Homo sapiens: one gene and its partner. The protein of the gene in region 1 purifies or fractionates together with the protein of each later gene. This does not show direct contact. Each region holds a gene or a part of one and is shown in the gene's direction. Other genes may lie near its edges. The genes, in order: TICRR and CDK8.

Region 1 (3,828 bases):
GGCCTAAGTAATACAAGGACTTGAGCAAGATATGATTAATCCATTTTATTTTATTTTTTTCTCAGATTTTAAAACTGAGGAAGAGCTGCTATCATATATACGTGAAAATTACCAAAAGACTGTGGCCACAGGAGAAATCATGTTGTATGCATGTGCTCGAAACATGATCTCAACCGTTAAAATGTTCCTAAAATCAAAAGGCACCAAGGAATTAGAAGTAAGAGGGTCCAGATATTGTTGTTTGTCATGGATGTAGTGGTTGGTTGGTTGGTTGGTGGTGGATTTGGTTAGTGTCTTGGAAAATGTCTGTTATGTCATATGTGATTCAAAAATGGTAAGATAAGTAAGGGAGTAAGTACAGTTCCAGATCTCAGAAGGTGGATATGGTGAACTGGTAAGGCAGAAATCAAAGAGATGGGGTGAGCGGGGATAATTACATATAATTCTCTCCTAATGAAAAGCCTTTCCTCATGTGAGCTATATGTTAGCTGCATGATTAAGCCAGTGGTTTTTAACCCTGGCTATACTTTAGAATCACTTACAGCATTTAAAAAATATATATATGCCAACTAACCGTGGTGGCTCACGCCTGTAATACCAGCACTTTGGGAGGCCAGGGTGGGTGGATCACGAGGTCAGGAGTTTGAGACCAGCCTGGCCAACATGGTGAAACCCCGTCTCTACTAAAAATACAAAAATCAGCTGGATGTGGTGGTAGGTGCCTGTAATCCCAGCTACTCGGGAGGCTGAGGCAGGAGAATCGTTTTAACCTGGGAGGTGGAGGTTGCAGTGAGGCAAGATCGTACCATTGCACTTCAGCCTGGGCAACGGAGCGAGACTCCATCTCCAAAGAATATATATATATGCCTTGCTCTCTCCAGATGAACTGAAACAGATCTCTGGGGTTGGCGCTTTTAAAAAGCCCCCTGGATAATCCTTTTGCACTGGGAGTGTTGCAAACCACTGTTTTAGACCGTGTTGTTGTTTTATTCATGTTCAGTGGCCATCACGGAGCTCCTTCTCTAAAGCAAACAGGAGGATTTGTTTATGATACTTAGGTTTCTTAAGCACTGCTTTATGGAACGTTTCTTTTAAGACACTTTATTTAGGGCAGGCTTGTTTTATCCATGCCCACTAGCTCTCAAAATAACTTTTACCATGTTCTTTTTAAAGATATAAAAGAAGAATATTCACGTCACTTTTTCATTCAAATGAAAGAATAGAGAAGTTTATAAGGGAATATATTTCCCTTTAGTCAACTGTGAAAGAAATTAGAAATAATGACAAGTAACACTATTCTCCTATGTAATAATTTTGTATTTTTAGGTGAACTGCCTGAATCAAGTAAAAAGTAGTCTCTTAAAAACTAGTAAAAGTCTTCGACAGAATCTAGGAAAAAAACTGGATAAGGAAGACAAAGTTAGAGAGTAAGTAACTACCATTTTTTAAAAAATCATCACTCTAAAAGCTGTGAGATTAGCTCGTATCAGTTTAAAATAGATTGTTCGTGACATGGTGGCTCATGCCTGTAATCCTAGTACCTTGGGAAGCCAAAGCAGGAGGATTGCTTGCAGCCAGGAATTTGAGGCCATCCTGGGCAATATAGTGAGACCGTGTCTACCAAAAAATTTTTTTTAATTAGGTGAGCATGGTGGTGTACACCTGTAGCCCTAGCTACTTGGGATGCTGAAGCTGGAGGATTGTTTGAGCCCAGGAGCTCAAGACTACTGTGAGCTATGATCCCAGTACTGCACTCTAGCCTGGGCAACAGAGCAAGACCCTGTCTCAGGAAAAAAAAAAAAAAAAAAAAAAAGATTACCAACTGCATGAAGATGCTTTTGTAGCCAATTCTTTTTTATGTTATAATATGCAGCTTGAATCACCTATTTATCTAATAACTACATCAGTTTTTAGAAAAGGCACTGGCTCTCCTCCTTTTTGGTTGTTGTGTCTTATATAAATAGATCTATGCTTACGGAAGGAGCTTTTTGTTTAGTGACATCCAAAGTAGATATGACCAAGTATTTTTTTCTCTCAAGGTGCCAGCTTCAGGTATTTCTTCGTTTGGAGATGTGTCTGCAATGCCCTTCAATAAATGAAAGTACAGATGATATGGAACAAGTAGTGGAGGAGGCAAGTATATAGTTTCGTGCCATTGAAATACGCCCTAGATGCTTTCAGCTTCCCTGCAGAGGGCATCTATATAGTAACGTTCTAAAATCTCCTTCAGGTGACAGATTTGCTGCGCATGGTGTGTTTAACTGAGGATTCAGCGTACCTAGCAGAGTTTCTGGAGGAAATTTTGAGATTGTAAGTTTGATGGTTACTAACTTAACTTTAAAATTGTTTTGTCAAAACCTATGTATGGTGTTGTCTCTGAATTTTGGAGTTGTAAGGACTACTTTTTAGGCTGGGTGAGGGAGGGAATAGAGAGGGTAAGATGGTAACTGTTCCGTATTCGATCAATCTGTTCCACAGGTATATTGACTCTATCCCAAAGACACTTGGAAATCTTTACAACAGCCTAGGGTTTGTGATTCCTCAGAAGCTGGCTGGTGTCCTTCCTACAGATTTTTTCAGTGATGACTCCATGACACAAGAGAACAAATCACCACTTCTTTCTGTGCCTTTTTTGTCAAGTGCTCGTAGATCAGTGTCAGGCAGCCCTGAATCTGATGAACTGCAGGAACTTCGTACCAGATCAGCCAAGAAGAGAAGGTAAGAGGTCAAAGAATCAAAGGAATTATTTGCACTGTTATAGTTCTGATAAAAGATGTGTTTAAACTACAGTCCAGTCATCTTTGTCCATATAATTTGTTGAACTAATAGCTGCCCTTATGTCTGAATCAGAGAAGCCAACTATTAGAGCTCCTAATAGGAGCATCTGACAATCTTTATATTATCTAGGAAATATATAGTCATGTTTTGCTTAACAACAGGGATACATCCTGAGAAATGCATTGTTAGGCAATTTTTGTTGTACTAACATCAGAGTGTGCCTACCAAAACCTAGATAGTATATATTTTTTCATTTATGTATATTTTTTCATATGGAAAAGCTAATGTTCCAGCATTGTTACTGAATAGCAGTCATTTCCCCTACTTGATCTGTAATGCCAATATCAAGTGTCATTTATTAGGTTTCTATATAGGCTCCATTATAACCTATGGGACCATTGTCATATATGCAGTTCGTCATTGAAGGAAACATTGCATGACTGTATAGTGTTTATTTCCTATTTCACAAAGTCTTCTTTACTGTCCACATGAGGTCTCCAGAAACTAGGCCTTCTATGAAATAAGCTTAGAGTTTCAGCTTTTTAAATTTCCCTTGATGCTTTTCGTTGTTCATAACTGGTTGAATTTGTTACTTTTGAAAATTCTGGGGTGACTTGTTTTATTATAAACCCAGAACAACCTTAAGATAACTGGCTTTTATTTAAATCATATTTTATTTTACTTAGACTCCAGTTCCATTTGAATTTAACTATATATAACCTCTATCTAGTATGTATTAACTATTTCTATTTTTAAAAGGAAAAATGCATTAATAAGACATAAAAGCATTGCTGAGGTTTCACAGAATCTTCGACAAATTGAAATTCCTAAAGTGTCAAAGAGAGCTACGAAAAAAGTAAGTAAACCTTCCAGCTTGAGATGACACAGTAAATAAGAACAAAAAGGCAGTGTCCCTACTTTTAGGAAAATGAACTTTGGAGGATACAGAAATAATATTAAATATTTTTATGAATGTGTATAAAACTATAATCCAAGGAATAAAGAAATATAAACTTGTCAAGAGATTAACAATTTTACTCAAGAGTGTGA
Region 2 (3,828 bases), on another chromosome or scaffold:
GTTTATGCTCAAAGCATTGAAAGCAGGGACTTTCATCAGATAGTGTATACCACTGTTCATAGCAGCATTAATCACAATAACCAGAGGTGAAAACAATCCATGAACATCAACAGATGAATGGATAAACAAAATGTGATATCTATATATATATCTATATAGATATATATATAGATATGCATAGAGTGGAGTATATTTATCCATAAAGAATGAAATAGGCTAAGTGAAATAAGCCTGGCATGAAAGGATACATATTGTATGGTTCCACTTACATGAAATATCTAGATTAGGAAGATTCTTAGGGACAGATAGTAGAGTAGAGGTTACCAGAGCCTTGGGGAAAAAGGCGGTGGGATTATTGTGTAACGCAGGGGTCCCTGCGTCAGCACCGGTACGTTAGGAATTGGGCCGTACAGCAGGAGGTGAGCCACAGGCAAGCGAGCATTACCACCTGAGCTCTGCCTCCTGTCAGATTAGCAGTGGCATTAGATTCTCATAGGAGCTTGAACACTATTGTGAACTGCGCATGTGAAGGATCTAGGTTGCATGCTCCTTATGAGAATCTAATGCCTAATGAATGATCTGAGGTGAAACGGTTTCATCTTGAAACCATCCACCATCTGCCCCTTCCCCCAGCCCCCGCCCTGCACCTCCACCCCATTATCCGTGGAAAATTTGTCTTCCTCAAAAATGGTTTCTGATGCCAAAAAGGTTGGGAACCGCTGGTTTAATGGATTCAGAGTTTCTGTTTGGGATGACAAAAAAAATTCTAAAATGGATAGTGGTGGTGATCGCAGAACATTGTGAATATACTTATAGGATGCCACTGAATTGTACACTTAAAAATGATTAAAATGGTCTTTTTATGTTAGATATATTTTACCACAATCAAAAAATTAAAATAACCAACCAAACAACAACAAAATAGATTTACTCAGATAATACCTGTTCAGTGTCTTTTCCTCACAGATATCTTCTCATTTGTTACTGAAGTATCCGTCTCAGAATTGTGTGGGTGCTTATTAGATGTTTAAGATTGTTTACCTGTGGGTTTGTATTGCCTTTGAATTACAAATGGTGTGGGGTTTTTTACATTATTTTTGTGACAGAAATAGTTAATGCATCTCCTTTGTTTTGCAGTTACTTCGAGAGCTTAAGCATCCAAACGTCATTTCTCTTCAAAAGGTGTTTCTGTCTCATGCTGATAGGAAGGTGTGGCTTCTGTTTGACTATGCTGAACATGACCTCTGGGTAAGGTGAATTGCTGGCAGACATGAGCAAACAGTCAGGGATTGTTAAGAGTAACTAAAAACAGTTAGGTGTTCTGCTTATTATGAGACTTATGTTTTTAAAATAAAAGTAACCTCATAGAGTGTGGTTGGTGGCATGACGAAGGCTAGAGTATTTGACTTTGTATTATTACTTTTCAATATTGTCACTTTGATCTTTTAACAGATACTAAAGAAAACAATAGAATCTAAAGAGTGTTCAACAACTATTCAATATTGCTTCATATAGTTTTTTGATAAAATAAAAAGTAACTAATATATATAAAATTTTGCTCTAAAATAGAAAAGTAGCATATTTCCTTTTATTTCGTTGTATAAAGGGAACATAAAATGAGAAGGTGGTATCCTCATGTAGGAGGACGAATATGCTATCTTTGGAGAGATCTAATAGTTCTACCATTATTTGTCGTATAGCATTAAGCAAGTCTTTTAATGGCTTTGAAGCTGTAGTTTACCCCATCTGTAAAATGTAATACTTTCTTGCCTTTTTTAACAACGTTTTTCTGAGGAACAATCTTGTATTTGAAAAGTTTTATAAATATACAAATGTAGGAAACTGTTATTAATTATTAACTATTCACAATTGAATTTAATATCCTAATTCTTATTTTCAGTGGCAGTAGTTCAATACAGTATAGTCATGCGCCATATAATGTTATTGTCAACTAGGGACTGCATATATGATAGTGGTCTCCTAAGATTATAGTACCATATTGTTACTGTACCTTTTCTATGTTTACATATGTTTAGATAACACACTTATTTACTATTGTGTCACAATTGCCTTCCTTATTCAGTACAGTAACATGTACAGGTTTGTAGCCTAGGAGCAGGAGGCTATAACATATAGCCTAGGTTTGTAGTAGAGTCTATCATCTAGGTTTGTGTAAGTACAGTCTGTGATGTTTACACAACTGCAAAATTGCCTAACGACACATTTTTCAGAATGTATCCCTTCATTAAGTGATGCATGACTGTATTGTACTTACTTGAATTGGGCATAATCTTGCATTGGAGGAATTTTTTGTGGATGAGAGCTCTATTACAAAATAAGATTCGTGTGAAAATAAATTTTAATATCTCTTGGGACTTTTAGTTCTTTGTTTTCTGACCTATGATAAGAATAGTTTTAGGCCAAGTGTAGTGGGTCACACCTGTAGTCCCAACACTTTGGGAGGCCAAGACAGGAAGATCACTTGAGCCAAAGTGTTTGAGACAAGCCTGGGTCACATGGCAAGACCCTGTCTCTGCAAAAAATAAAAAAAATTAGCTGGGCTCAGTGGCACATGCTGTGGTCCCAGCTGTTCATGGGGCTGAAGCTCAGGAAGTCGAGGCTGCAGTGGGTCCTGTTTGCACTGTTGCACTCCAGCCCGGCTAATTTTTGTATTTTTAGTAGAGACAGGGTTTCACCATGTTGGCCAGGCTGGTCTCTTAACTCCTGATGTCAGGTGATCTGCCCACCTCGGCCTCCCAAAGTGCTGAGATTACAGGCCTGAGCCACTGAGCCCAGCCAGTTTATTAGTTTATCTAATGCATTGCAGAAAATGATGCTATATTGAAAAAAATTACTGTAAAATAAGAACTTAATTTTATCTTGTCTGAGTAGCTGAAATACAAACACCAGCCTCAGTATTTTGCAGTTTACTAAGCAGATTATTTTTTAAATTGGTATTTGAGGAACTCTAAGGTAACTATAAAATTTGCTCTTTTATTAAATATAACATTTATATATTTTTTAAAAATCTGAAACGTTACCTTGCAGATAAAACTTTGAGATATATATATAGAAAATCTATAATAGGATAGCCAAAGTAATTTTGAAACATAGTAACAAAATTGACATTCTTATCAATCTGTATAGAGAACATCTGTTAATACAGATTATAGTTTAAGAAACAAGTAAACTAAACATCTAACATTACCTTGTGTTAATTCATTAAGAATTACTATACTCCTGTGAACTGCTTTTTAAATGATATTTAATAATGTCTTTAAACATTGTATTGATTTGCATACTAATCTATATTTACTAAATTAGCATGGCTATGCTTTTTATTATGTATACATGAAATTTTCTCTCTTTTATGAAACTCTTTCCAAAGTTCATGCTGGTTATTAATTTCTTCTTTTTTTTTAAATCTTTGGTTCTTCTGTTCTTCTATTTTAAAAGAAATCTAATCAGATCAACCCTGTTAAATCAGCGTGGCCAGTATTAAATTGAACACTCACTATGCTGAGCCTCATAAGAAATAAAGTCATATAATTTAAACTTAAGGCATTTTCCAGGCTGGTTTATAAACAAGATTTGTGATAAACCACAGTAGAGCATAGAAGATAGTATAATATTTCACTCAATGTGATTTCTAGCTGCTAGTTTGTAATATTTAATTTTACATGTAGGTACAATGATTATACTTCAGCAAATTTTATTGTGGGTAATATTGTACAGTGCATATAACTAGTTCATTAGCTTTATCATCATCTTAATAATATTTAAGCCAAATAAATATTTTTAATGTTCATTTTCATAAAAAACAAATGA

The links.
Region 2: the proteins of TICRR (region 1) and CDK8 purify together in Homo sapiens (affinity purification with western blotting; one study listed by BioGRID). This does not show direct contact.

The regions. Positions count from the first base shown.
Region 1 is NC_000015.10:89,599,259-89,603,086, forward strand, and holds part of TICRR (treslin), read left to right. Parts: intron 1-65; coding exon 66-217; intron 218-1,326; coding exon 1,327-1,427; intron 1,428-2,039; coding exon 2,040-2,133; intron 2,134-2,230; coding exon 2,231-2,310; intron 2,311-2,478; coding exon 2,479-2,718; intron 2,719-3,537; coding exon 3,538-3,634; intron 3,635-3,828.
Region 2 is NC_000013.11:26,347,935-26,351,762, forward strand, and holds part of CDK8 (cyclin-dependent kinase 8), read left to right. Parts: intron 1-1,137; coding exon 1,138-1,248; intron 1,249-3,828.